7 separate regions of the Homo sapiens genome follow, and regions 1, 2, 3, 4, 5 and 7 are each linked to region 6. Evidence: fine-mapped expression QTL. A gene starts in region 6. Each other region holds a variant in brackets. All regions are shown on one strand. Distances are between the middles of the regions.

Region 1 (4,127 bases), 21 kb after region 6:
ACCTCACAAGGGGAAGAGACAATGATTCATGGATCATAGCTGTTTCTAACCCTTGATTAATGATCTTTAAACATAAGGCCAGCAGGCCCCTCAGTGACCCAGCCAGGGACTCACTGGAATTTAAAACGATTAGCTACAACAATAGCACAGTGGCAGAGCATTGCATGCGAGATGGCAGATGAAAAAAACATGCAGAGAAGAAGCATTGAATGGTCTTACTTGTGCAAACTAGTGTCCAGGCAAGGTGGTGAGGAGGGAGGATGGGGGAAGCATTAGGAAAAACTCAGGTAAGTTCAAGTGCGCCAACAGTCAATGAACACAATCAAGCATACTCCAGGATCTTCTAAACTGTAAGGAAGTACTGTTTCTCATCTCAGGAGTGTCCAGTAATATCTACCTTTTGGAGAAATGAAGCCTCTGCCAGGGCCCCATCAAACTATGGCTAGGTCATTTTTTCCCCTTTTACTGCGGGTAGTTATGCCATAAAGAGAGAAGCTAAATTGTTTCTAATGAGGTTTTTCTTAATTTACTTCCCTTATTCCAGCAGTTCAAAAGCCATGAGCAGAAAGCCTCACTGACCCAAGGCAGGCTGTGGGCCCAGGGGTTAGGGTCGGGGTGTGTGTGTGGGTGGAATTCTATTTGGGAATTAGTTTTCCAAACATTTTAAGAAAAATCTCCAAGCAAGCCTATTGCCCCAATTAACCTGGGAGTGTCTGAAGTGCAAAGAGATCTTCCCAGATTGAGGAGGAAAGGGCTACAGCCCGTGCACTTTCCTGGTCCATTCCTGTTTTAGAAGATTTTACTTCCTGCTAAAATTGTTTTAAAGGGATAGTAGAAAAATCAGGATTGGCCAGGCACAGTGGCTCATGCTTGTAATCCCAGCACTCTGGGAGGCCTAGGTGAGTGGATCACCTGAGGTCAGGGGTTTGAGACCAGCCTAGCCAACATGGTGAAACCCTGTCTCTACTAGAAATACAAAAAATTAGCCGGGTGTGGTGATGGACACCTGTAATTCCAGCTACTCAGGAGGCTGAGGCAGGAGAATCTCTTGAACTCGGGAGGTGGAGGTTACAGTGAGCTGAGATCACGCCATTGCACTCCAGCCTGGGCAAAAAGAGTGAAACTCCATCTTGAAAAAAAAAAAAATTCACGATCATCTGTAGCAAAATTTAAATCTTTTATGCTTTCCTCCCCCATCCTCCCCACTATGGGAATCGGAAAATGTTTATGTTTAAGTTAAATTAGCAATTTAAATCTTTAAGGGATGTTTGAGGACATTTTTCCTTTAGTAGCCCAATTTCTTCCACAGTGGAGGAATCACAGGAAGAAAGTTATGGAGCAGTGAGGGTCAACACAACTTGACTATTCCTTTAGACAGAAATCTGGAGACCCGGCTGGCATGGTAGCTCACGCCTGTAATCCCAGCACTTTGGGAGGCCAAGATGGATGGATCACTTGAGGCCAGGAGTTCGAGACCAACCTGGCCAACATGGTGAAACCCCATCTCTACTAAAAATACAGAAAATTAGCCAGGTGTGGTGGCACATGCCTGTAATTCCAGCTACTTGGGAGGCTGAGGCAGGAGAATCGCTTGAACCGGGGAGGCAAAGGTTGCAGTGAGACAAGATTGTGCCACTGCACTCCAGCCTGGGGGAAAGAGTGAGACTCTGTCTCAAAAACCAAAAAGAAATCTGGAGACCCCCTGAAAGGTTCCACAAGAGTCTATCCATATTGGTTGTCTCTAGGGAAGAGAACTGAGTGGTGGTAGGCAGAGGTGGGAGGCAGATTTTTCACTACTTACCCTTGAATCCTCTGTTCCCTGTGCATACATTACCTACTTTAAAAACTGATAAAATTAAAGTTGAAAATAAACTGAAGATTAAGGCGGAGAATGCTGTTGTCAGGGGTTAAGAAGGTGACTGAGGCTGGGCATGGTGGCTCACGTCTGTAATCCCAGCACTTTGGGAGGCCAAGACAGGCGGATCACGAGGTCAGGAGATCGAGACCATCCTGGCTAACACATGAAACCCCGTCTCTACTAAAAATACAAGAAAATTAGCCGGGTGTGGTGGTGGGCGCCTACAGTCTCAGCTACTCGGGAGGCTAAGGCAGGAGAATGGCGTGAACCCGGGAGGTGGAGCT[C/T]GCAGTGAGCCAAGATCACGCCACTGCACTCCAGCCTGGGCGACAGAGTGAGACTCCGTCTCAAAAAAAAAAGAAAAAAAAAGAAGGTGACTGAAAATCTCATGGTTCAGCCACAAGACAGGTCATGTGCACTGTCACTTGTACTAGGTCTTGGGCAGGTAGGCAGGAAACAGACAGGCTGCTGGTGAGATCCCAGGCCTCACGGACATGACATTTCTAGATTATCTAAGCATACAATTCACTGCTCCTCAAATTGCATATTTACGTCAGTATTAAAAGCAGTGGCAGAGCCATTACTCAGCTGACTTCCCAAAAGCTGCAAGCCCCATAGGGACATGCGGGGGCCAGAGACATTAGCTGACATCAGGAAACATCTTGGCTCTTCGGGCCCCTGAAGTGGCTGAAGGTCTGCCCACCCCATTCCTCCCTAGTGACAGAGAGTCACTTAGCTGAGCCTTAGGTGACAGAAACAATTCAGCTCTTCTTGTATTTGCCATTCAGCTCATATGCACTTCTATACTGGCATCCTGGGCAACATGCCACAGGAAATGAACACTCACAGTATCCTCTCCTCATCAGCCACCCCACTAGATGCTACTAAAATAGGCTGTTCAGGCTCTGGGGGAGAAACAGCCAATCAGAGCTGCACAGTCAGGTTCTTCCACACCTGGAATGGGTGTCATCTCCTTTTTATTAAGAGATATCCCAGTATCTTCAAAAGGGAATGACAATATGTATTTTTTTGTTTAGAAAGAGGATTACTGTGAAACTACCTGTTTGTATCACAGCGACAAAAGGACTGAGTTCTATTCATTATCTCACCATGAAGGGCAGAAGCCTAGGCCTAAGTTGAACAGTCTGAACTGTGGTAGTGCAGTAAAGTTCTCAGCATACAGCTGTCTCTTGGCAACTGTGGGAGACTGGTTCCAGGACCTCCCTTGATACCAAAATCTGCATATGTTCCCATCTTCTATATAAATTGGCATAGTAACTGCATATAACCTACCTACACCCTCCTGTATACTTTGAATCATCTCTAGATTACTTAAAATACCTAGTACAATGTAAATGCTATGTAAATAGTTGTTATATTGTATTTTTAAATTTTGTTTTTTTTTTTATTGTTGTACTGGTTTTTTTTTTTTTGAGATGGAGTCTTGCTCTGTCACCCAGGCTGGGGTGCAGTGGCGCAATCTCGGCTCACTGCAACCTCCACCTCCCAGGTTCAAGCAATTCTCCTGCCTCAGCCTCCACAGTAGCTGGGACTATAAGCGCTCGCCACCACGCCTTGCTAATTTTTATATTTTTTAGTAGAGACGGGGTCTCAAACTCCTGGCCTCAAATGATCCACCTGCCTCAGCCTCCCAAAGTGCTGGGATTACAGGCATGAATCACCACACTGGGCCTATTTTTTATTTTTAAAAAATATTTTCCATTTGTGATTGGTTGAATCCATGGGTTTGGAACCCATAAATACAGAGAACCGATTGTATACACTCCTATTCTGTGAGGACAGAGGCAGCTTCCTATAAGATGCCTCTTGGAGTGACAGGTGCACACCCAGGTCCTTGAGCAACAACATCATCTGCATTATCTCCAAGATACTCAAGCTTAGGGGATAGATTGGCATGCCAGCAAATACAGAAGCCACAAGGAACACACCACTGGGAGAAGGGACAGAGAAGGTGTTTCCCACAATGTAAGAACCACTTCCACATGGGGGAGTCAAATAAGAAATAAGTGAGTACGCCAAGCCACACATTGTAAGCCAGCAGTCAGCATTCCCCAGAATTAACCAGCCCCACAGACATAGCCACAGGACTTACAGACAAGCATACTGAGCCTGCATATTGCAATGACTCTTGGACACATCTTTACTGAGAACTCACATCATCAATGTGATCCCAGCCCAGCTGTCTTCAGAAATAATAGAACCTAAAACACATCCTATAAACACACCTCTTGGCACTTAAACAGAGTTTTTA
Region 2 (4,127 bases), 350 kb before region 6:
TACTGTGATGCTGTGTAATCGTGAAGGCCCTACTCAGCTACTCTTTCTTCCTCACAGCCTATCCCACCTGCTTCCCCCTGACTCAGTTTACCTGCAACAATGGCAGATGTATCAACATCAACTGGAGATGCGACAATGGTAAGAGCTTGCTCTCCTCACCTGCTGATTCCTAAGACAGCTAGAGGCTACAGCCAGGCCCTCCAGGGAAGGCAAAGGGCTTCAGAATCCAGCAGGGCCTCCCTCCAGGACACTGAATCCCTGCTGGGTTGCCTGGGAGAAAACAGGAGAAGTCAGAAATGCCTGGAGGGAGCCACGATGGACCAAGGGGAGACCATCACCTTTTAGTGTCATTCCTACCCCAGGCAGGGCCTGAGCTGCCCACCCTCTAGTAGGGCTCGGAGGCCAGGGAGAGATGAGTGAGATGGGCCAGAGAGGCAGAGCAAGGAGAAACCGGTGCCTGACTCCTTTCTCCTTGCAAACCCCCATTTCCTGGAGTCCTTGGTGCACCCCTCAGGCTCTGGGCTTCAGGCTCAGAAGCCCACCTGGCAGATAGCCATGGACCAGGTGATGTCAGCCTTGAGCCACCAGGGCTAGTATGTGTGTAAATGTGCGGGCAGGTGACTGCCGTGTGTGGTGTCTCAGGGCTCTGTTCTGTCTGTGTTGTGTTGTGACGTGCTGCCCCAGTGGTTCCTGTCCCAGCTGATGTGTGAGCGGATGTGTTGGGTCAGTGCCACGTTGCCCCTCACTTTTTCTGTGTCTCGCATGCCAATGGTTGCCCCGGCGGTTTCTGTGTTTCAGAGAAGGATTGTGGGGACGGCTCTGACGAACAGACCTGTCCTGAGCCTGCCGGTCAGTGCATAGAAGCACATGCACCATCACCCAGAGCTCAGCTGGCCCCAGCCCCCTGCAGGTTCTCCAGGCCCCTACTCCAGAGCTGCTAGGATATGAAGAAAAAGCAACAGAGAGGAGGGAGAGCAGAAAACAGAGGGAGAAAGCAAATAGTGGTCAGGAAAGAAGCAGAGACGGCAGAGGGAGCCTCTGAGGAAAGGAGATGACAGAGAGGTGGTGACAAAAAGCCCAAGATGCAAGGGGAGGAGAGAGTTAGAGAAGCAAATCCAGTTGGAAAAGAGGCAGGAACATAACCCAAACCCCAGTCTCCACCACATGTCCCATAAATACAGAGGGTCAAGTCAAGCAGCCCCCACCCAATGCTGAGAAAGCAGGAGCTTCCTTCAGCCAGCCTCAGCGAGCTTGGTCCAGAAGTGGCCCCCACTCTTGCCAGCCACAGGCAGGGCCCCTGTAAGCCAGGCACCCAGAGCATGGTATTCAGCAGTGCCAGCCTCAGGGCAGGCCTGTAAAGCTTGTCTCAAGCCGGCCACGCCTGCACCCCACCTACCTCTCTCCCTCCAAAACTAGAGAAACCCCTGCCTTTCCCCCAAAAGCAAGCAGACCCCTGTTCCCACACCTGCCAGAAAGGGGAAATGAAATGTTTAATGTTCCCTGCACCCAGCCTTTCTGAGCTTCAGTGAGGGGCCCTCCAGGAGCCTTCTCCTCCTCCTCATCCTGACCACGTGGGCCATGGTGCATGCTGCAGTCTATGCAGTTTCTGTGTCTTTTCTGTTTGTTATTTTCCCAGTGGGGGGGTTAGGGTGGGCTGAGGGTGGGTTCTGGGCAGGGGGCCCAAGCTGGGATCACAGAGAAGGCTGCTCCACCAACTCCCGCTTTGCCTCTCCCCTTCTTCCCCCACCGCCAGACAATGACTGTGGGGACAACAGTGACGAAGCCGGCTGCAGCCACTCCTGTTCTAGCACCCAGTTCAAGTGCAACAGCGGGCGTTGCATCCCCGAGCACTGGACCTGCGATGGGGACAATGACTGCGGAGACTACAGTGATGAGACACACGCCAACTGCACCAACCAGGGTGGGCACCAGGGGCCCGTGGGGTGGGGATGAGATCGAGCCCCCTGCATCAGACACCCAGCCTATCCATCTGTCTTTCAGACCCACGGTGTGTCGGCCACCATCTGGGAGCCAGAGGTAGCCTAGGCATGGCTCTTGTCCTTCAGGAGCTCCCGGTCCTGTGGGAGAGGGAGGTTGCCGAAAAATCATTGCCACACGCTGTTAATATCATGCGCTTTGCAGTTGGTGGCCTTGGGTTTGAGCTCCAGCTCTGCAGCTTATTATCTGGGTGGCCTTGAGCAAGTTACTTAATCTCCATGGGCCTCTGTGAGTTTCGTCTGCAAAGTGGGGTAATAATAGCACCAACATCACAGCGCTGA[T/C]GTGGGAGTTTAGTGAGATCACGCACGAAAAGTGCTCAGCACACGGCCTGTGTTTGGTAAATAGTAGCTTGAGAAAAGGATGCTGCAGGCAGGGATGAATGAGCCTGAAGAGACAGAGGAGAGAGGGCCTGGCTCCACAAGGCTCCCAGTGCCCTGGCCTCTGGGGCCCAGCCTCGGGGGCGGTGGGGACCTAGTTTTCTGGAGGGATGGGCCCTCTCAAGGAATGCTGGCTTCCTAGCTCTGGAAGATGTGCAGATTTTTATGTGAAAACTACCAAATTTTTAACACTACAGTATTAGTTTCTCTCGTCTCACAGTTCTGGAGGCTGGAAGTCCCAGACCCAACTGTTGGCAGGGTGGGTTCCTTCTGAGGCCGTGTGGGAGATTCTGTCCCAGGCCTCTCCCCAGCCTCCGCGGTTTGCTGGCAATCTTTGCAGCTCCTTGGCTTGTCGAAGCTTGACCCGATCTCTGCCTTCATCTTCACACGGTGTCCTCCCTGTGGGCATGTCTGTCACCAGATCCCCATTTCCCCTTTCTGTGAGGACACCTGTCATATTGGATTAGGATACACCCTTATGACCTCATCTTAAGTTGACCATCTGCAAAGACACTATTTCCAAATAAAGTCATATTCACAGGTATTATGGGATAGGACTAATATCTTTTTAGGGAACACAATTCAAGCCATACCAACTGGCAGTTGATTTTAGAAGTTTTAAAAGGCTGGGTGCAGGCCAGGCATGGTGGCTCATGCCTATAATCCCAGCACTCTGGGAGGGTGAAGTGGGAGGATCACTTGAGGCCAGGGGTTCAAGACCAACCTGGTTAACATAGGGAGAACCCATCTTGAAAAAAGAAAAGAAAAAAAAAAAAGGCTGGGTGTGTTGACTCACACCTGTAATCCTATCACTTTGGGAGGCAAGGCAGGAGGATCACTTGTTTCCAGGAGTTTAAGACCAGCCTGGGCAACATAGTGAGACCCCTTTCTCTACAAAAAATAAACAAAATTAGCTGGGCATGGAGGCACATGCCTGTAGTCCCAGCTACTCAGAAGGCTGAGGTGAGAGGTTGAGCCCAGGAGGTTGAGGCTGCAGTGAGCTGTGAGCTCGCCACTGCACTCCAGCCTGGGTGACAGAATAAGACCTTGTCTCAAAAGAAAAAAAAAGTTTAAAAAAAACTACAGACCAAACTCTTCCTGCAGGCCTCATCTGACCCATGGACCACTAGATTACAGCCTCTGCCTTATAGAGTTAGGGCACATTCCCACCCTAGTAGGAGAAGACTGGACAGCGTTGAGTGCCCACCTTGAGCCCTGCCCTGAGAGGGAGGACAGAGAAGGCCACAGGAAGCTTGGGAAATAGTAATTGCGTCTCCAGGGCTATCTCTGTGAAGGGGAGGGTGAGGGGCACAGGTGATATCCCTTAGGGTTCTGAGAAGGGGCCTCTGGAGGCTGTGTGGTGTGGTGAGAAGAGCTCCCTGCCGCTCCCAGATAAGCTGGGCAAATTTGGACAAGTTGCTTCCCCTGAGCCTGGGCATCCTCCTTTATGAAATGAGCTGAGGTATGTGAGGCCTGGCGTGGAGGAGCAGGGTGTCACTATTGGTAGCAGTTGTTAACTATGGTATGAGCTGGATGGTCTGGGACCATTCAGGAGGAGTTGTGTTTAGACTGCAGGTAAATGGACAGGAGGGAGGGTCTTCCAGTGGGGATGGCATGGTCCGGAGAATGCTGTCGTCAAGACTTAGAGGGTGAAACTGAGCACTTCCGTAGGGTGACAGTGGGGCCAGGTGGAGCCGTTCAGACCGAGGGAAAGGCTCGTGCAGGGACAGTGGGGAATGAGGCTGTCCTCAA
Region 3 (4,127 bases), 49 kb before region 6:
AATTTTGTAGTGGGGGCAAATAGGGCTTCACATAGGGCAGCAGCACCACCTCGACTTCTGCCCCCATTGCCCACTTGCTATGGGCCTCTCAAAGTGGGAGGCACAAACCCCAGCTGTGGTCATCCTGAGGTGGGCAGGCTAGGAGGGGGTCCTGCCTTGTACCCTCCTCCCGAAGGACAGGTATGTAACCCCCTGGACTCTCTTGATCTTGACAACACTCAGCTGGACTTTGTGGCTATTCTGGATGAGCCCCAGGGGCTGAGTCCTCCTCCTTCCCATGATCAGCGGGGCAGCTCTGGACATACCCCACCTCCCTCTGGGCCCCCCAACATGGCTGTGGGCAACATGAGTGTCTTACTGAGATCCCTACCTGGGGAAACAGAATTCCTCAACTCTAGTGCCTAAAGAGTAGGGAATCTCATCCATCACAGATCGCATTTCCTAAGGGGTTTCTATCCTTCCAGAAAAATTGGGGGAGCTGCAGTCCCATGCACAAGATGCCCCAGGGATGGGAGGTATGGGCTGGGGGCTATGTATAGTCTGTATACGTTTTGAGGAGAAATTTGATAATGACACTGTTTCCTGATAATAAAGGAACTGCATCAGAAAAAATACCATGCCACTTTATGTATTATTATGTTGGGGAGGAATGATAACAGGGAACAAGAAGAGAAGCAGGGGTTAATCCACTCACTTTCCTCTTTAGAGAAGCTCCCTCACCCATCCCAACACCTCAAGTCACACTCATGAAGATAGAGACAGTCATTTGGGAGATTTAAAGGGATATCCTCAAAACAGAACACCAGCCTCTCACCACCAGAGATGACCGGAAATATGTTTTCTCTTCTTCCTTCCCTGCATCAGGGGAAGAGGCTGGTGAAGTTGGTGAGCATCAGCTGGACCAGCTGCCCTGGGTAGAGAGCATGGGCTGCTGGGTCAGATGTCTCCTGCTCTGGCCGAAACAGGGTTGGTCCAAACACAATTCCCAGGTTGTGGGGTGTCATGCGATTCTTATCTGAGTGTGCTATCACCCTGTAAGCAAAGGCCAAGGAAGGGGATATATGGCAGCAGCTTGCCACTTCATAGCAATCTAACTAACCCTTCAAAGTTCTGAGCAGGGAAGAGTTCACTCTGGGATTCCTCCACATGGTAACAAAAAAACCAAGGAGATACAAGGAGAATGGAGATGGACCAGTGGAGAAACCTTCAGGATACAACCTGAAGATATAACTGCCTCTTCCGACTTCAGGGGCTGCCCCAAGAGTTCTGCCTGCTCACAGTTTGGGAGTCTTTAATTCAAGTGGCCATCCTCTCTCAGAAGTCACTGCCCAGGCCCAGTTCAACCAAAGAAGCCATCAGCAATGTCCCAATGGGAGACAAAGAGGCAGAGGGAAGGGAGAAGTAAGATTTCCCTTATTCCTTTCACAGCATCTTGGTTCCATTTCCCCACTTGATGCTGACCTTTAGGTTTTGACCTAAAGTCTTTGACGGGCACGGTGTAATCCCAGCACTTTGGGAGGCTGAGGTGGGTAAATCACCTGAGGTCAGGAGTTCGAGACCAGCCTGGCCAACATGGTGAAACCCCGTCTCTACTAAAAATACAAAAATTAGCCAGGCGTGGTGGCGGGCACCTGTAATCCCAGTTACTCAGGAGGCTGAGGCAGGAGAATTACTTGAACCCGGGAGGCAGAGGTTGCAGTGAGCTGAAATTGCGCCACTGCACTCCAGTCTGGGTGACAGAGCGAGACTCTGTCTCAAAAATAAATAAAATAAAAAAATAAAGGTTTTGACTCTGGTAATATGCTCCTGCACAGAGGTTGCCTGCTTCCTCACCTGCCCATTAAACTTAGGTGCTTCCCTACCTTCACTCCACCTGCACAGAGTCCCTGTGGCATTCCCCACTCCACCTTTCCCCAGCATGAACAAAGAGGTTCTGTCTTCCTGACCTGCATAAATGCTCCAGGAGGTACCGTAGAGTGTCATGGTTGGGCTTTGGCATTGAGCCTATTAATTCTTGTATCTGAGAGAGGCACTGCTCTGATTCGGAGAGTGCTAGAGAGAGTGATGGGAAAGGCATGGT[A/G]GTAAGGTTAGGGAAGGTGCTAGGACAGGATGGGTAAATGCACTGCTCTTTCCCACAGGCATGGAAGACATCATTAATCTAGCACAGCTTTCTTTTTCACATAGCCCAACTATAGCCTCATAATTCTTTTCAATTCAGCCCTCTAAACATTCACAAAAAAGCAACTGGAGTAGGCACCTGAGTTGAACATTATTTTCCATCTCTAAAGTCAGAATGGGAAAGAAGAGTATAAGGGAACCTCTATTCTATTATTTACCACCCGTGTCCCCCACATCAAGGGTTCTTTCCAAAGCTCCAACCCTTACCAAGGGCAGCACGGAAATGGGGCAGCAGCAGTGGTGGCACCAGAGGCTGGGGCAGCTCCCGGAGAAAAAGCTTCAGGGCTCCGGTGACCACATGAATGTCATCCCACTCAGTACTGTCCAAATCTAACCGACCTTCTGGAGGGAGAAGGAGGTATAGGGGCTCATGAAGGGCCAGAAAGATTTAGAGACTGAGAGATTAGAAGTTCTGGAGAAATCCAGTCAAAGCAGACTATAGGAATGCCTAGAGGGTCTGCAGTGGGGCAAGGTAGCTAAGGTGGGGATGAGGACAACCCTCCCAGGAATAGTACATGGGGGTTTCCACGGGAAGCAAAGAGGATATGTGGAAGTTTTAGGGATCTGAAGGGTCTTCCATGTAAGTACCTTGTCCTGGCTGTTCTGGGAACACATACCTCCCATCGGAGGTGACCGCACGCTCTGCAACATGAATGAGGAGAGATCAGGAGCTAAGACATACACTTCCAGCCTGACGGCCTCTCTATTCTGCCAGCTTCCTCATGTAGGACCGCCCATGGTTCTCAGGCAAGACATTCTTAGTACAACCACTGGCCCACAAGCCTTCTCACCTCTGTCCACCAGAAAGCGAAGCTTCTGGACCACTGCCAAGTTCCCGCTCACCCGATAAATGCCATCCACATCTAGACCTGGGAGATGAGGAAGGAGTAGATAAGGACTGCTGCTTGAAAGTGTGTGTGGTGAGGGATATAAGGGTGGAGAGAAAAAGGGCAGTAGGAAGACTAGGTAGAATGGGGGAGGCAGAAAATTCTAGGCCTTAGCCTGTTGGAAGAGGATTCTGGGGTCTCTGAGAAAATGACCTCTTTTATCCACAGCAGCAATGCAGAGCCGCAAAAAGCTGGGCACCGTGTCTCCTTCCCGCTGGCAGAGTGATTCCAACTGGCAGCCGAACACCTGGTCTGGGGAAGTAGAGTGAGGCGGGAAGCCAGTGCCAGCGTCACTCACAGGAGCTCTTCTCAGCATAGGTCTTTATCCTTAAGTGAGGCTGGTCCTCCTGGCTGCCTGTGCCAGGCCTGGGCAAGGAAATACACTCCACCTCCCTTCCCCTGCTTCAAACAATCTGGCAAAGGGGTACAGGTCACCCCAGCTTCTCCCCTAAACAATCTGGGGTAGTGGGAAAGCAGCAGTCACAGAAGGTTGTGGTCTAGTTCTGGGAAGCTCTACTCTGAGCCTCGCTGGAGTTTTCTTATCCATGAACCTGGCCCAGCCCCCTCACCTCGGAGCAGACCCCGCTCCTGCAGGCTTTGTAAGGGCGGTCTCTTCGCGATGAGCCGCTTTAGTTTGTTGCGCACGCGGTTCTGCTCGGTGCCTTCGGGCCCCCGAACTGCAGGAGGCAGGTAGAGCGGGGCGTGAGCGCCCGGGAGCCTCGCTGCGCTCCCGGACTCTCCCTCCCCAGCCCGCGCCTCACTGGAGCTCCGGCGGCTGCTGAGGCGCAGCAGCGGCTTGGACACCAGCTCCGACTCCTCTTCTTCGTCCTCCCCGGCGCTCAGCTCCGCGGGTCCAGAGCCCGACAGACGCAGCTCCAGGGGGTTCTCCCGATCCTAGACCCGGGGCGGGCCGTGTCGAAGGTGAGAGAGGAGAGAAATCTGTATCCCTAGCTGGACTCTGACCCACTGCCGGGGTCCCACATCCCGGCCCAGGCAAGGGCTCTCCACTGAGCCCACCCTGCCCCCAACTGCTCCTGACTCCTATCGTTCCTACCCCACTCC
Region 4 (4,127 bases), 320 kb before region 6:
CCAGGCTTCCCAGTGGCCAGCAACCACCCCCACTCCCAAGACTAATTCTGGCTCTGTGTCCCCCTGGCTGCTGCAGCCCGGTTCGTGTGCCCTCCCAACCGGCCCTTCCGTTGCAAGAATGACCGCGTCTGTCTGTGGATCGGGCGCCAATGCGATGGCACGGACAACTGTGGGGATGGGACTGATGAAGAGGACTGTGGTGAGCAGGGGGCCGACGAGAGGCCTGCAGGGGACGGGTAGTGCACAGTGGGGTGAGTCTGGTCCTCGTGGGAGCTGCACTGGGGTTAGGGTTAACCAGGAGGACTCGCCCAGGAAGGGGAGGATCCATTGCTAGGAGCCTGGGGGCTTTTCGTTAGGAAAGAGAAGCCCCTGGGGAAGGCTCTGGGGGCTGCCTGATGCCTTAGGTCTTGGAGGTGGGGCTGGGAACCCAAATGTTTGACCTGCTCCCCCTGCAAGCCTTGTCACTTAGGAATTGGGAGCCACTGTTATCTATGGGGTTGCCGTGGGAGGAGGAGGCAGGGGAGAATACCCAGGGCCTAAAGCCTCTGCCCTCCTCAGAGCCCCCCACAGCCCACACCACCCACTGCAAAGACAAGAAGGAGTTTCTGTGCCGGAACCAGCGCTGCCTCTCCTCCTCCCTGCGCTGCAACATGTTCGATGACTGCGGGGACGGCTCTGACGAGGAGGACTGCAGCATCGGTGAGGCCCGGCAGCGGACCGGACGCTGGTGGGGAGTGGGGAGAGCCAAGCCCTGGCCTGGGGTGGCTCAAGGGAGGGCATCCACTCTCTGTCCCCCACAGACCCCAAGCTGACCAGCTGCGCCACCAATGCCAGCATCTGTGGGGACGAGGCACGCTGCGTGCGCACCGAGAAAGCGGCCTACTGTGCCTGCCGCTCGGGCTTCCACACCGTGCCCGGCCAGCCCGGATGCCAAGGTAGGAAAGCGGGGCAGAGCAGGGGTGGACACCCCAACTGTGGACTCTCATGACCCTCCCTGTAACCCTTAGACATCAACGAGTGCCTGCGCTTCGGCACCTGCTCCCAGCTCTGCAACAACACCAAGGGCGGCCACCTCTGCAGCTGCGCTCGGAACTTCATGAAGACGCACAACACCTGCAAGGCCGAAGGTGCCGGAGCCACCAGAGGGCAGAAAGGCTGGGTGGGGCAGGGCGACCAGGATATCAAACGGGGCCGACTTGGAATGGAATGTCTTCCTGCGGACATCTTGCCCAGACAAGAAGCCCCAGACTCATAGTTGCAGCTGCCTGAGCACAGTGCTGGCCCAGCAGTGGGGGCAGGTCCTGGGGCTGGCTGACTGAAGGAGTCTGGGGTGTGGCAGTGCTCTGAATTGCACACACACCTCCTCACCCACCACTGCCAGGACGAGAGTACACTCAGACACGCATTGCACACTCACAGTCATGGGGGCCTCACCTGCACATTCCCCACATGCTTTGATGCCCACCTTGCCTTCCACATGCCTGTACACAGACATTCACACACACCCCTGGCACACACACCCCCACCATGCACTCCCATGCACACCCTCGTGCTCCATGCCAAGCACACACACCCCATGTGCCTATGCACCCCCGAGCATGTGCCAGGCAGTTTGTAGCAGAGAGCGTGGTGATGCCATCCAGCAGCCGTGAGGAGGTGGAAGTCTCTGGGTCTGGAGGGGCAGGGACAGCTTTCTGACTGAAAGGAGCGGGTCACAGTGGATCAGCTCAGGGGAGGAGAGGAGGAGGTCCAGAGGCTGAGGTTGGAGCCTGCAACCCTGAGCAGGGAGGGTAAGCAGCAGCTTCTGGCCGGAGCAGATGGTCCTACCAGGAGATGGGACAGTGTTCATGTGAAAGGAGCTGAGCTGGGTGGGGTGCACACCTGCATCCCACAGCCCCAGCCCTGGCCTCTTGCTTCTCCAGGCTCTGAGTACCAGGTCCTGTACATCGCTGATGACAATGAGATCCGCAGCCTGTTCCCCGGCCACCCCCATTCGGCTTACGAGCAGGCATTCCAGGGTGACGAGAGTGTCCGCATTGATGCTATGGATGTCCATGTCAAGGCTGGCCGTGTCTATTGGACCAACTGGCACACGGGCACCATCTCCTACCGCAGCCTGCCACCTGCTGCGCCTCCTACCACTTCCAACCGCCACCGGCGACAGATTGACCGGGGTGTCACCCACCTCAACGTGAGTGCCCAACCTGGCGTGGATGGAGTGGAAGAGCTCCATAGAGCAGGC[G/A]GTTCAGAGCAGGATTTGAAAAGGGCAGTGCTGGCTAGGCGCAGTGGCTCACGCCTATAATCCCAGCACTTTGGGAGGCCAAGGCGGGCAGATCACCTGAGATCAGGAGTTTGAGACCAGCGTGGCAACATGGTGAAACCCTGTCTCTACTAAAAATACAAAAATTTGGCTGAGCGCGGTGGCTCATGCCTGTAATCCCAGCACTTTGGGAGGCAGAGGTGGGTGGATCACGAGGTCAGGAGATCCAGACCAACCTGGCTAACACAGTGAAACCCCGTCTCTATTAAAAAATACAAAAAAATTAGCCGGGCATGGTGGCGGGCGCCTGTAGTCCCAGCTACTTGGGAAGCTGGGGCAGGAGAATGGCATGAACCCGGGAGGCGGAGCTTGCAGTGAGCCGAGATCGCGCCACTGCACTCCAGCCTGGGCGAGAGAGTGAGACTCGGTCTCTAAATAAATAAATAAATAAATAAATAAATAAATAAATAAATAGAGACTCGGTCTCTAAATAAATAAATAAATAAATAAATAAAATAAAATAAAATAAAAATACAAAGATTAGCCAGGCGTGGTGGCGGGCGCCTGTAATCCCAGCTACTCAGGAGGCTGAAGCAGGAGAATCCTTTGAACCCAGAAGGTGGAAGTTGCAGTGAGCCGAGTGCCACTCGGTTGCAGTGGCACCAAGGTTGCAGAATAGCACTGCACTCCAGCCTGGATGATAGAGCGAGACTCCGTCTCAAAAAAAAAAAAAAGAAAAAGAAAACAAAAGGGCAGTGCGAGGGGCAAAGGTTGAGAGTGGGGCAGGGGGCAGTCTTAGGATTGTGTTCTGAGGCATGGCCAGCGGGAAGACAGAGCAGTGGGAATGGTCAGCAGCTGGCTGTGCTGCAGGCAGCCCAGGGCACAGGGCATGATGGGCAGGCAGACAGCCCTCCGGCACCAATCCCCCATCCTTGCCACTTCCCACTGTGTACGTCTTAGCTACCTCATTTAACCTCTTTGGGTTTCACTTTGTTTATCAATAAAATTAGGTGATCATCGCCATTGCACAGGCTTCAGGGAGGGCTCACCAGCCACGTGTGAGAGCTGCGAGTCTGGCGCATAAGCTCCATGCCGGTTGAATCTCTTTAAAGCCAGGGTCCTGGCTGTGAGCCTGGGGTGACGTTCCAGCAGGCTGGCAGAGTGGTGGCGGGGGGATAATGGCAGGAAGACAAAGCAGTGGCCCCTGAACCTGTGGCTTCCATTCAGATTTCAGGGCTGAAGATGCCCAGAGGCATCGCCATCGACTGGGTGGCCGGAAACGTGTACTGGACCGACTCGGGCCGAGATGTGATTGAGGTGGCGCAGATGAAGGGCGAGAACCGCAAGACGCTCATCTCGGGCATGATTGACGAGCCCCACGCCATTGTGGTGGACCCACTGAGGGGGTGGGCAAGGGCCCTGGGGGGAGGCCTCTGGGCTGGTGGTAGGAAGCCCCCGGGACAGGGTTGGGGGCTGCACCCACATGCGTGCCCTTCCCTCCCAGGCCAGCCTGAGGACAGAGTCCTTTTCAGTCCCTTGGGTCTTCTCGGCCACCCCTGCCTGGCCCTCCCCATGCTGCCTCTGCCCAGGGCCCCCAGCTGGGCCTGCTTGGGCAGGGATCTGACCTCTGCTTGGCCGGCTGTCATGCACAGCCACACTCTGCCCTGGGGAACAGCTCTGCCAGCGTCGGTGGCTCTGAATGAGCACACTGTGGTTTTAGAGGAAAAGCCCCTCAACCTGCTCAGAAGCAGACTCCCGCCTGCTTCTCTGTAGAAGGACAGAATGCCCTCCTCCCAGTCCCCAGCAGTCCCTGTCCCCAGACCAAGAAGCTGGTGTCCTGCCTGGGCCTGCCTCCTCTGGCCCTCCG
Region 5 (4,127 bases), 960 kb before region 6:
TTGCCAGCTCACTTATCCTAAAAGGCAATGGCATTTTGTTTCTACTCCATAGACACAAACTTTCTCAGCAGCCTCTTAAAAAATTCTACCTGCTACTGGCCGGGTGCGGTGGCTCATGCCTATAATCCCAGCACTTTGGGAGGCCTAGGCGGGCGGATCACGAGGTCAGGAGATCGAGACCATCCTGGCTAACATGGTGAAACCCCGTCTCTACTAAAAATACAAAAGAATTAGCCGGGCATGGTGGCGGGTGCCTGTAGTCCCAGCTACTTAGAAGGCTGAGGCAGGAGAATGGTGTGAACCCTGGAGGCTGAGCTTGCAGTGAGCCGAGATCATGCCACTGCACTCCAGCCTGGGCAATAGAGTGAGATTCCATCTCAAAAAAATAAAAATAAATAAAAATCTACCTGCTACTGATATATATTATAAAGCCTTTATGTGTTTCTCTAAGGAAAGCCAGTGTGGGACTGGCCTTTAAAGCCTAATATCCAACTTTATTTCCAGCACCTCCCCCAACCTGATGGTCTTAGTGGAAAGACTGCTGTCCTTACACCTTGAATAGAGAAGTTTAATATCTCTATAGATGTTAATTAGAAGGCATGAGAGAGCTGGCAGTGGGGATGGAAGAAAGTGGGACTCGCCAATCAAATCATGCACTTTGGAGACTTTCTGCTGCTGGAGATATTCCTTGGGAATGGAGACCTCAAATTAGCAGATAAAGAAGGTGGAGATAGGAACAATTATTCTGTATCTACCCCATGAAGACCCTTCGGAGTTCTTTTTAGTAGATTTGATTCATGGAATTGCCCAATTAGGAATGTTGGAAAAATGGCAAGAGTGCACAGATGTCCAGCTCAAAAAATAATAAGCAATAAAAAATAAAGTCTGGTGTATATAAAAAACTGGTCCTTGGGCCGGGCGTGGTGGCTCACACCTGTAATCCTAGCACCTTGGGAGACCAAGGCAGAAGGATTGCTTGAGCTCAGGAGTTCAAAACCAGGCTGGGCAACATAGTGAGACCTTGTCTCTATAAAAAATATAGTAAAAATATATATTAAAAAAAATTTTAAAACTGGTCCGTTATCTCAGCTTACCTTGCTAGAAAGGTATGTAAGTGGAATTAAGGGGACTGTCTTGGACTAGTAATTTTTGAGAGGTGGGAATTAGCAGAAATGTTGGTTTTTGAGGGAGCGAAAGAGTATCATACTAATATAGGTCCTTGATTTCTAAATTTTGTTTCTTGTACTAAATATAATGTGCTACAAAAATTCTCTCACATCACAAGACAGAGAAGAATCTTTTTTTTTTAAGACTGAGTCTCAGCCTCCCAAGTAGCTGAGATTATAGGCGCACGCCACCACATCGGGCTAATTTTTGTTTTTTTTTTTGCTAGAGATGGGGTTTTACTGTGTTGTCCAGGCTGGTCTCGAACTCCTGACCAGGTGATCTGCCCACTTCGGCCGCCCAAAGTGCTGGGATTACAGGTGTGAGCCACCGTGCCTCGCTCAGAGAAGAATCTTGATTAGACTACCATATATTCGTTCCTCAGTATCTGGGGGGGATTTGTTCCAGGACCTCCTCTGTCCCCCTGCATGGATACCAAAATTCACTGAGCTCATGTCCCTACGCTTTTTTTTCTTTTTAAGACAGGATCTTGTTCTGTCACCAAGGCTGGAGTGCAGTGGTGTAATCACAACTAACTGTAGCCTCCAGGGCTCAAGCAATCCTCCCACCTCAGCCTCCTGAGTAGCTAGGACTACAGGTACACACCACCATGCTTGGCTAATTTTTTGTAAATTTTGTAGAGATGAGATTTCATCATGTTGCCCAGGCTGGTCTCAAACTTATGCGCTCAATCATTCCTCCTGCCTCGGCCTCCCCAAAAGCTGGGATTACAGGCATGAGCTACTGAGCCTGGCTTCAAGTCCCTTAGATAAAATGGTATAGTGGCCAGGCATGATGGCTCATGCCTGTAATTCCAGCACTTTGGGAGGCCAAGATGGGTGGATCACCTGAGGTCAGGAGTTGGAGACCAGCCTGGCCAACATGGTTAAACCCCGTCTGTACTAAAACTACAAAAATTAGCTGGGTGTGGTGGTGGGCACCTGTA[G/A]TCCCAGCTACTCAGGAGGCTGAGGCAGAAGAATCTCTTGAACCCAGAAAGCAGACGTTGCAGTGAGCCGAGATCACGCCACCAGAAAGCAGAGGTTGTAGTGAGCCGAGATCACGCCACTGCACCACAGCCTGGGTGACAGAGCAAGACTTCGTCTCAAAATAATAAAAATAAAATAAAATAAAATGGTGTAGTATTTGCATATAACCTATGCACATGCTCCTATATACTTTAAAATTATCTCCAGATTACTTATGATACCTCAATACAATACAAATGCCATGTAAATAAATGTTATACTGTATTGTTTAGGGAATAATGACAAGAAAAAAGTCTGTATATGTTCAGTACAGATGCAACCATCCTTTCTTTTAAAAAACATTTTAACTTTTATTTTAGGTTAAGGGGTACATGTGCAGGTTTGTTACATAGGTAAACTCGGGACTTGGGTATTTGGTGTATAGATTATTTTGTCACCTGGGTACTAAGCATAGTACCCAACAGTTATTTTTTTAGTTTTTTTTCCCTGAACCTCTCTTAGAAGAAAGACTTTTTTTTTTTTCCTATATATTTTCAATCCATGGCTGGTTCAATCCACAAGTGGGAAACCCACAGATACAGAGGGATTTTTATTTTGCCTTTCTGAACAATTGCCTTATCTTTTGCTGTGTCTGAAGCATAAGTATAGTCAAGGGCAGCATGTAGGATCGAAGTAAGGAGCCCAAAAGGGGACTGTGGAGAGGCAGGAGTGAGGCAGGAATGAAAGAGGTGCCAGAGGAGTCCTGACTAGGAGGCTGAGCAGAGCAGGTGGGTGGAGCCCTCTGTCCGCTGTGAGCAGGGAGTTAAGCCTTTCTAGGAAGGATGTTTCTCATGCGTAGACGGACTTCCTGCCTTTGTCCCAGTTGTCTCTCCCTGGGTTGTAGAGGAAGTAAATATTGCTGGATCCTAAAGTCTGGCATGTGGGAAGGAGAGGCGTGGAGTCTAGGACTGGAACTCCTGTTTCTCGGAGGGGCTCCTTCAAGGAAGCAGCAGCAGTGACCCAGCTGTTGCCAGCTGCAGTGGAAATTCTGAGCTCAAAGTCTCAGCTGCTAGACCACAGCAAGCTCCACCCTGGGGCCTTCATAAGGATAGCAGCACTTGTGTCCTCTGCCCCACAGTCAGACTTCTCATGAGTCCCTCCCCTGCCTCAATTTGGGAATGAATCCAAGTGTGTAGCCTGGAAGGGCTAGGATAGCCACATCCATCCTCACCCTCCTTTTAATGTGTTCTGTTCCCAGCTTTCAGGGCATTGCTTGGCTTATTCTGTCTAATCCTTTGGATCACAGAAGTTCTACTAAAAAAGTCAGTGAGATGCCGCCAAGGAGTGAAAACAAATCAATCATCATATGTTCTTTAGGGATGGAAGGAGAGATGGGAAAATTGCTTGTTTGGGGTATTATTCTCAAATTCATTCCCTGACAACTATTTTCAGTTAGCTCTTGTACTTCTGACTTTGTTAGTGATTTCTGTTCTGTCTCTTTAATATTTTCACCCTCCTGGAGTGGAATGTAGAGGCTTTTTTCTAGTGGAACGCTTCTAATATAATCCCTGATCTGTGATACACTACTACTCAAGTTTTAGAAGTTCCACATGACTCTGCTACCAAAGTATAATTTTCAAAAAGTTGAAAAACACAACTGTTAGGCTGGGCACAGTGCCTCACACCTGTAATCACAGCACTTTGGGAGGCTGAGGCAGGTGGATCACTTGAAGTCAGGAGTTCGAGACCAGCCTGACCAACATGGTGAAACACCATCTCTACTAAAAAATACCAAATTAGCTGGGTGTGGTGGCGCATGCCTGTAATCCCAGCTACTCCAGAGGCTGAGGCAGGAGAATCGCTTGAACCCGGGAGGCGGAGGTTGCAGCGAGCCGAGATCACGCCACTGCACTCCAGCCTGGGCAACAAGAGTGAAACTCTGTTTCAGAAAACAAAAAGAAAACACAACTGTCATGCAAATATAAAATGAATATGTGT
Region 6 (4,097 bases):
TTTTACCATGGCCTTGCCCTCCTCTCAGGGGCGGGACCCCAAAACCTACCAATCAGAAAGTGGCACGCCGGCATTGGCCCCGCCCCGTCCCTCGCATCCGCCACTCAGGAGCCCCGCGGCACCGCCCCCGTCGCTCCCTCTCGCTAGGGGGTCGACGTAGTGTCGGACCCGGAAGTGGCTTTGGGTCACGAGGCTTCACGGAGGAGGTGGGTGAGTCATGCGCGCGCGCGGAGGGGAGTGTAGCGGGGGGGGAGGGGAGGAAAGGGGGGCGGGGATGATGCAATGTTTGGCAACCGGTGTCTGCACGCGCACGCGCAGGGGACACCGAGGGTGGTGGGAGGTGCGGAGGGTGGGGGAGAGGAGAGAGGGCGGGGCGCCAGCTCCCGGCGCCCAACGGCCCCAACGGCTATCAGCCTTGGTCGCCCCTAGTCGGTCGTGAGCCTCTTTGCCGCTTGTCTCCCCCAGAAGCTGCTGTTCCGCCCACCTAGCTTTACCCGCCGTTTTACCCCCACTATAAGGGACTCCCATATTTCTTGGCCCCTCCCAGCTAATGGGCACATAGGCCTTTTGAACTTTTCTTTTTAAAGTTGGTATCCATCCACTGGGATTGTCGACATCTCGAGTCTTCTTAAAGAGGTCTCCTGGCCGGGCTCAGTGGCTTACGCCTGTAATCCCAGCACTTTGGGAGGCTGAGGAGAGCGGATCACTTGAGGTCAGGAGTTCGAGATCAGCCTGACCAACATGGTGAAACCCCGTCTCTACTAAAAATACAAAAATTAGCCGGGTGTGGTGATGCGCGCCTGTAATCCCAGCTACTCTGGAGGCAGAGGCAGAAGAATCGCTTGAACCCTGGAGGCGGATGTTGCAGTGACCGAGATCGCGCCACTGCACTCCAGCCTGGGTGACAGAGCGAGACTACGTTTCACCAAAAACAAAAAACAAAACAAACAAACAAAAAAACGGGGGTGGTCTCCTGTTCTAGCCCCGTAAATCTCCCAAAAGGGGCCGAGGTACTGGAATCCCTTGGTAGTCATTTTCCGCTTCTCTCAGAACAGCGCCCTTGACTTTTACCTTGTAGTTGGTAAGCCCTCAGCCTGCCAGAAGTCATGTATTTTGCCCAGTGGACCCGATTCTGTTTGGCCACCTATTTTCCCCCACGGTACTCCTATGGCTTTCTCCAAGACCCTCTCTTGCTGTACCAGACAGCAAGTCCTGTGACTCCCTGTGTGAGGAGCGCGGCACAGGCCTGCCTCCTAGGTGTTCGGGTCGAGATTTACAGCGGAGTCTCATCCCGGGACGTGTGAGTGCACTTCAGCGCAGGACTGCCCTGGACTGGGGAGACCGGAGCCGCGATTTTAGACTCAACTCCCCATCACTTGCCAAGGGATCTTACCGTCCTTGTTTGTAAATTAAAGATAAAAGTTGTGAAGGTAAAATGAGAACCATGAACTTGGAGGCAACTTGACCAAAAGTAAAACGCACCACCCAGAATGCAAAGTATTTTTCTTGTGCCTTGAAAACAGAGGCCATGTGGTGGCCTGTTACATATCCTGTCATACCCTCATGGGGGCAGCCAGAGTTTAAGTAGAAACTGTCACAAGGCCGGTTGTGACTGGAGTGGTGTGGCAATGACAGGTCTTTGGTTAGGCTGCTCCGCTGCTCCACACCTCCATTTCCTCTCTGAAAATGGGGGTAGTGTGGAGGGTGGACCAGATGGTCTCCCCTGGCCTAAAGACAGACCAGGTTGTCAGTGACAGGCAGAGGTCATGTGACTTGACAGGCTGAGGTCGTGTTGTGACATGTTGACCTGGGGAGGCGGGTCAAGTCCCAGCACACTACCCGGGAAGCCTTTGGGGCGGGGCAGGGCAAGTCGCGACTTTCATCTTTCGGGGCCTGGCCCCTCCCGGACCTGGCATTCCTGGTTCCCGCAACAGACTGTGGCTTTGGAAGGGGCCCCTCCCTGAGGAGGGCTGGGATTGGCCACCAGTGGCCTGGGAAGAGGCGCAGATCCTTCCGCGGAGGGCGGGGGGGCCGCGTGGGGTGTTTGTTCTCTTGGGGATTAATGGGGGGTTGTGGGGGAGGGGTAGGCGCGCTCCCGCATGCGCACTGCAGCCCCTCCAGTTGGCTCGTCGCTGTCCGCTGGGCGGGGGCCCGGCCCCGCCCCTCTCCCGTCCGGGCAGCGGCGGAGGCGGCGGCTCCTGCGGCGGCGGCTGCGGCAGCGACGGCGGCGGCGGCAGCGGCAGCAGCCTGCGCAGTGCCTTCTGGGAACGGAATCCCCAGGGCTGCCCCTGGCCCCCATGGCGCATGCGCGGGAGGCCGCTCGGTGATCCGCGGCGGCGGCAGCGGCGCTTCCTGCTAGGACCGGCCGGGGCCGTACCGGAGGCTCGGGCTCCACCGACCCTCCTCCCACCCCCTCCCACTCACCCTCTGGGCCGCGACTGCGCAGGGCGGGGCCGGCCGAACCATGGGCCGCGGTGAGTGCGGGGCCCGGCCCCCCCCACCCTGCCCCTCCCCCTCCCGTCCCTACCCTCTGCCCCCTCCGCGTCCTCTCGGCCCCTTTCCCCGGCCCCATCCCCACTCCCCCGCCCTCACCTGCCCCCGCCGCTTCTCCCTCTCACTGCCAGACTTCTGCCTTCCTCACCGCCCTCCCCTCAGTGCTTCGCCCACCCTCCGCCCGCCCTCTCCCCAAGTTCCTTCCTACTTCGTGCGCCTTCCCCTCCTCCTCAAGCTGAGGGAAGCAGTCTGGGTGACAGGGCGCCTTGTTGTGAGAGGGAAAGTTTGGAAGCCGCCAGTGTGGGGTGGGAGCAATGGTGAGGCTGGGGAGGATACCTGCAGGTTGGAGGGGCTTCCCCTTCTATCGGAGGACAGGCTCTCTTGGAGATAATCGGAAGCCAGTGGAATAGGAGGTTCTGAATCCCTTTGCCGTAGGCTTGAGGGAAAATCAGGAGCTTCCCAGGATCCTGGGAGAAGACTGAGCTGTGATCCTCACCTCTTAAGACCCGAATGAACTATATCAGCGATTGTCTGATGGAGCAGGCATGGGGGGAGTTCTGCTGGTACCACCCCAGCGGGCAGTTGGGCAATTGCCTGGTGACCTGTGGGGCAATCTGTACTTTTTATATCATCTTCCTGGGTAGAGAACAACAGGAGCCAGACACTCTGGGAAACTTCCTAGTGGCCTAGCATTATGGGAATGTGCCCATACTCCTGGTTGAAGTCTTCTACTCCGAATGGAGGGAGGCCTTGCCCTTCATATGCCTAAGAATTGGGCTAGACTTTCTTGGTCCCAGGGAGCTGAGGTTCTGACCCTCTGGTCCCTAGGGACTGGGCTTGGAAAGGATGGTTGTAGACTAAGCCAGCAGATCCCCGAGATCTTTATAGGTGCTTGCCTCACATTGTTAAGGATCTTTCTTTTGAGAGGGTGCTGGGCTGTGCTGCTCTTTAGAGTTGGGCAGACTCCTGACAGTCCCATCTCTCTACTTGCGTTGCAGGTGTGGGCTAAGCTGGTGGCCCCGGCTTTAGACTGGACCCCACAATGTTTGCAGAGATGTTCAGGTAGCTGTGGTGATACGGCAGAGGACTCCTCAGTCTCCCTCCCAGCTGAGGGGTTCCCCTTGCTCCTCTGGGGCTTCCCCTGAGTTTTCTTGGGTCTCCCCACAACCTTTGCCTTCCTGGAGTCCTCTCTCAGGTACTTCGCTCAGTTTAATCCTCCTAGTGCCTACATGGATGTCTGTGTTATCAGGCACGCGGGAGCTGATTACACACAATGAATGGGGGCAATGAGAGCAGTGGAGCAGACAGAGCTGGGGGCCCTGTGGCCACATCTGTCCCCATCGGCTGGCAGCGCTGTGTGCGAGAGGGTGCTGTGCTCTACATCAGGTACGGATCTTCACAGGTCCCCAAGCTCTGCCACTCCAGTTGCCCAGGTTTTCTTTCTTCCGTTTCTTCTCTCAGCTCAGCTCTCTGGTACCCGATTGCTCTCCTCTCTTCCCCTTCCTTCCTCAGCCTTTTTGCTTTCTGTAGCTCTGGGCCTTTGAATCCATTCTCCCTTTTTCTGTGTCTTCCCACATTCCTTATCCTCTGTTCTTCTAGGAGGA
Region 7 (4,127 bases), 54 kb after region 6:
GTAGAGAGAGGGTTTCACCATATTGGCCAGGCTGGTCTCGAACTCCTGACCTCGTAGTCCACCCACCTCGGCCTCCCAAAGTGTTGGGATTACAGGCGTGAGCCACCGAGCCCGGCCCAGAATTGGATTTTTTTTTTTTTTTTTTGAGATGGAGTCTCACTCTGTCGCCCAGGCTGGAGTCCAGTGGTGTGATCTCGGTTCACTGCAACCTCCGCCTCCTGGGTTCAAGCAATTTCCTGCCTCAGCCTCTTGAGTAGCTGGGATTACAGGCATGTGCCATGATGCTTGGCTAATTTTGTATTTTTAGTAGAGACAGGGTTTCACCACCATGTTGGTCAGGCTGGTCTCGAACTCCTGACCTCAGGTGATCCACCCACCTTGACCTCCCAAAGTGCTGAGATTACAAGGCATGAGCTACTGCGCCCAGCCAGAATTGGATTTTTAAATGCAGGCGGAGGAATTTAATGTGAAATGCCGCTGATAGAGAGCTGCTAAAGGTCGTTTGGAAAATACCCATCCCATTTGAGTCCCTGCGTATGTGGGTGTGTATGGGTAGGTAGAAGGTGGGAGGGAACAGATAAAGCTTCCCAGCAGCCAAGAAGCATCTCTTCCTCCTTTAATCACCTTAGCCAGTGGAGATCAGTGGGGCCATCGAGGAGGAGTTCACTGTGGCCCGACTCTACATCAGCAAAATCAAATCAGAAGTCAAGTCTGTGGTCAAGCGGTGCCGGCAGCTGGAGAACCTCCAGGTGGAGTGTCACCGCAAGATGGAAGTGACCGGGCGGGAGCTCTCATCCTGCCAGCTCCTCATCTCTCAGGTGAGTGCCTAAGTTTGAGAACCTTCAGATGCCATGGGAGAAAGAAGGCTACTCTGGGGTTATGGCTAAAACTCCTAACACCCACCTTTATGTCAAAGTTCTGGGGTCAAGTGAAATCAAGGACAGAAAAGCTGGGGTGGCAGGGGTGCAGATCAGGGCCAAAAAAGTAAAGGCTCAGGGCGGGTACTGCCCCCTGAGCCATGGGAGCTAAAGGAAGAGCCCCATAGGAATGGCCCCCAACCCTGCACCCTCATGGGAAGTGTAGCAGGAGGGAGGGCTGGGAGGAGAGCTGGAGTTGGAGATCTGTGTGGCCTGGGTTTGTGTCCTTTGCTCCATCTTCTTCCTCTCACCAACTTTCTCCCACCAGCATGAGGCCAAGATCCGCTCGCTTACGGAATACATGCAGAGCGTGGAGCTAAAGAAGCGGCACCTGGAAGAGTCCTATGACTCCTTGAGCGATGAGCTGGCCAAGCTCCAGGCCCAGGGTGAGGCCTTCTTATACCTCCATCCCACTGTCCAGGGCAGAAAAGTCAGAAACATCAAAATAAATCACCCCAATAATCACTCACTCAAAGCATTAGCTTGAAATCATGGATGCCAACTCATATGTTAGCCAAGGTTTTGCATGTAGCTCATTTTACATTAACCATACACCCTTGTTCTCTGTTCCTGCTATATCAAATTGGACAGTCCTAACACAGAAGAACATCCCTGTGGGTCCATTCCCAGCCCTGCCTGGAGTTCTGGTCACAACGTGAAGTTCTTTCCGAAAGAGGTAGGTTTGATGTCAGCTGTCTTCCCCTCTTTCCCTTAGAAACTGTGCATGAAGTGGCCCTGAAGGACAAGGAGCCTGACACTCAGGATGCAGATGAAGTGAAGGTGAGTAAGGAAGGTGTCAG[G/A]GACAATTGGGGCCTGGTGTGGTGAAAGCTGTGCTGGCCCTCACAGAGCTTGTTGCTGGGAGTCTGGCCTTTGAGCTTGGGGTGGGGTTGTTTGCAGAAGGCTCTGGAGCTGCAGATGGAGAGTCACCGGGAGGCCCATCACCGGCAGCTGGCCCGGCTCCGGGACGAGATCAACGAGAAGCAGAAGACCATTGATGAGCTCAAAGAGTAAGGGTTCCCAAGGGCGACTCCAGCCCCTCCCGGGTCCTGTCACCTTGCTGTATTGACTCACATGTCCCCTCTGGGTCTGATTCTTTAACATCCATGTGTCATTCCCTCAACAATGCCACAACTTCGTAGCCCCACCTCAGGAGACACATGGAATAACGACTAGTCCCTATCCTTGAGGGTCCCAGGATTAGAGAGGTCAGGGTTCCTGGCTCTGTCATGGAAACAGTGGCCTGAGTCTGCCTCTGGTATCTGAAGGTGGACACATCAATTCTAACTGGACTCACTCGTTCAAAAAGGAAGAAGTTTGAAGAGCTGGCCTTCCCTTCCCCCTCATTAACATCTTTCTCCCCCATCTCCATTACCTTCTGATGCTCTGTAGCCTAAATCAGAAGCTCCAGTTAGAGCTAGAGAAGCTTCAGGCTGACTACGAGAAGCTGAAGAGCGAAGAACACGAGAAGAGCACCAAGCTGCAGGAGCTGACGTGAGTGGCATGGATTTACCTGTAAAACTACAGCCTTGTAGGCTCAGAACTGTGAACTCAGACACGCTTGCAGAGGCAGGACACACATGCAGACATGATAGGGTGACTCATGGGAAAAATATGATGGGGTAGGGACGGGACCAAAAGGACACTCTCAGCAAAGACTGCCGTTGAGTATTCACCAGTATGGAAGGAGGTTTACGTGTTCTATTCAGTGTAAAAACAGGTTACAAAACCATATGCATGGTATGATCCCATAAAAATGTATACATGGATATGTAGGCATAGAAAAAAGTCTAGAAAGGTGGACACCAGAAGGTTAATGTTGGTTTGATCTGTAAATAGTAGAATCATAGGCTTTTTATAAAAACTCACCTTATGTCTCTCTTTAAAATTCTTTTCTAATTTTTGCACAGTAAACATGAGTAACTTGTGTAATAAATAATAATAGGCTGGGTGCGATGGCTTACACCTATAATCTCAGCACTTTGGGAGGCCAAAGCAGGTGGACTGCTTGAGCTCAGTAGTTCGAGACCAGCCTGGGCAACATGGCAAAACCCTGTCTCTACTAAAAATACAAAAATTAGCTGGGCATGGTGGCATACGTCTGTGGTCCCAGATGCTTGGGAGGCTGAGGTGGGAAGGATCCCTTGAGCCCAGGAGGTTGAGGCTGCAGTGAGCCCTGATTGTGCCACTGTACTCTATCTAGCCTAGGTAACAGAATGAGACCCTGTTTCACAAAATAACAATAATAGTAATACTTAAATGGAGATAAAAGTAATAGAGGAAGAGGCAGGAGGAAGGAGAGTCCTGAGGGATCTTTCCATTTCCCTTATTTCTCTTGCTACAGATTTCTGTACGAGCGACATGAGCAGTCCAAGCAGGACCTCAAGGGTCTGGAGGAGACAGTTGTGAGTGGTTCCCTTCTGTGCCAAATTCACAGGACTGGGGAGTGGGGAGGCTTCATTTCTTCCTAACCCTATTCCTCCTGCCCTTTTGCAGCCATTCTGTAGCGTAATCAAGACACATTTTTTCCTAAAGGATAAGTGACTCACTTGATTATAGAGACTGGAGGTACCTATAATTCTGGAGGAATAGGACAGACCTGGTATCTGGCTATTCCCAATTTTTCATCATTCTTTCCAGGCCCGGGAACTCCAGACCCTCCACAACCTTCGCAAGCTGTTCGTTCAAGACGTCACGACTCGAGTCAAGAAAGTGAGTGCTGTCCTTGGGGTTTTGTCAGCCCCCACATCCTCCTCCTATCCTTAGGTTTCTCCTGCCCCTGTTGCCCCTATGGGGCTGGCTTGGCCTGGTCTTGGTGGGACCTGTTTGGCCTCAGGACAGCCACGTCTTTCCTTCTATCTGTTCTCAGAGTGCAGAAATGGAGCCCGAAGACAGTGGGGGGATTCACTCCCAAAAGCAGAAGATTTCCTTTCTTGAGAACAACCTGGAACAGCTTACAAAGGTTCACAAACAGGTAAGAGTCTGCTGAAGGAGTGAAGAGAATTTTTGAGGCCGGGTAGCTAGCATACCAAATCCTCAGAGGCCCCTTGGATTCAGGAAAATCTAGTTGCATGTTTTCCTTACTGTTCGCTTTTACTTTCCCTACTAATCCCTTCTTTATACCATATTTGGTCCACTTGTACCTTGTTCTTTGTTTCATGCCTGTATTCCCTTCTCAAAGTTTCTAACCCACCTCTGCTCAAAGTGGAATTC

The links. PIP is the estimated chance that this variant, and not a neighbour inherited with it, causes the effect.
Region 1: its variant is fine-mapped to the expression of MBD6 in whole blood (TOPMed, PIP 0.97).
Region 2: its variant is fine-mapped to the expression of MBD6 in whole blood (INTERVAL, PIP 0.98).
Region 3: its variant is fine-mapped to the expression of MBD6 in whole blood (TOPMed, PIP above 0.99).
Region 4: its variant is fine-mapped to the expression of MBD6 in whole blood (INTERVAL, PIP 0.98).
Region 5: its variant is fine-mapped to the expression of MBD6 in cerebellar hemisphere (GTEx, PIP 0.99).
Region 7: its variant is fine-mapped to the expression of MBD6 in whole blood (TOPMed, PIP above 0.99).

The regions. Positions count from the first base shown.
Region 1 is chr12:57,541,145-57,545,271 of GRCh38, forward strand. The region is part of intron 2 of DCTN2 (dynactin subunit 2); the gene reads right to left. Among named protein-coding and RNA genes, the nearest start is that of DCTN2, 4.0 kb to the right of the region's middle. The variant C/T (reference allele first, on the strand shown) is at 2,143.
Region 2 is chr12:57,167,387-57,171,513 of GRCh38, forward strand. It overlaps LRP1 (LDL receptor related protein 1), which reads left to right. Exons shown (of 89, transcript NM_002332.3): 19 at 58-138; 20 at 1,754-1,921. Among named protein-coding and RNA genes, the nearest start is that of LRP1-AS, 22 kb to the left of the region's middle. The variant T/C (reference allele first, on the strand shown) is at 2,280.
Region 3 is chr12:57,471,657-57,475,783 of GRCh38, forward strand. It overlaps GLI1 (GLI family zinc finger 1), which reads left to right. Exons shown (of 12, transcript NM_005269.3): 12 at 1-612. The coding sequence ends at 405. ARHGAP9 (Rho GTPase activating protein 9) reads right to left here. Exons shown (of 18, transcript NM_032496.4): 11 at 3,827-3,959; 12 at 3,635-3,742; 13 at 3,219-3,317; 14 at 2,970-3,047; 15 at 2,767-2,820; 16 at 2,386-2,520; 17 at 1,947-2,052; 18 at 613-1,032. The coding sequence ends at 861. Among named protein-coding and RNA genes, the nearest start is that of ARHGAP9, 6.1 kb to the right of the region's middle. The variant A/G (reference allele first, on the strand shown) is at 2,081.
Region 4 is chr12:57,204,551-57,208,677 of GRCh38, forward strand. LRP1 (LDL receptor related protein 1) reads left to right here. Exons shown (of 89, transcript NM_002332.3): 72 at 77-199; 73 at 559-699; 74 at 801-935; 75 at 1,008-1,127; 76 at 1,923-2,191; 77 at 3,488-3,666. Among named protein-coding and RNA genes, the nearest start is that of NXPH4, 10 kb to the right of the region's middle. The variant G/A (reference allele first, on the strand shown) is at 2,243.
Region 5 is chr12:56,562,744-56,566,870 of GRCh38, forward strand. The region is part of intron 2 of RBMS2 (RNA binding motif single stranded interacting protein 2); the gene reads left to right. Among named protein-coding and RNA genes, the nearest start is that of RBMS2, 43 kb to the left of the region's middle. RefSeq lists enhancers at 2,600-3,138, 3,139-3,676 and a silencer at 3,260-3,309. The variant G/A (reference allele first, on the strand shown) is at 2,111.
Region 6 is chr12:57,520,538-57,524,634 of GRCh38, forward strand. It overlaps MBD6 (methyl-CpG binding domain protein 6), which reads left to right and starts at 2,287. Exons shown (of 13, transcript NM_052897.4): 1 at 2,287-2,474; 2 at 3,492-3,555; 3 at 3,743-3,879. The coding sequence starts at 3,767. RefSeq lists enhancers at 1-948, 1-734, 735-1,695, 1,329-1,438, 1,529-1,598 and 2 more and silencers at 1-404, 2,119-2,518.
Region 7 is chr12:57,574,455-57,578,581 of GRCh38, forward strand. It overlaps KIF5A (kinesin family member 5A), which reads left to right. Exons shown (of 29, transcript NM_004984.4): 16 at 630-818; 17 at 1,186-1,303; 18 at 1,633-1,697; 19 at 1,815-1,924; 20 at 2,307-2,408; 21 at 3,259-3,319; 22 at 3,555-3,626; 23 at 3,784-3,888. Among named protein-coding and RNA genes, the nearest start is that of PIP4K2C, 15 kb to the right of the region's middle. The variant G/A (reference allele first, on the strand shown) is at 1,718.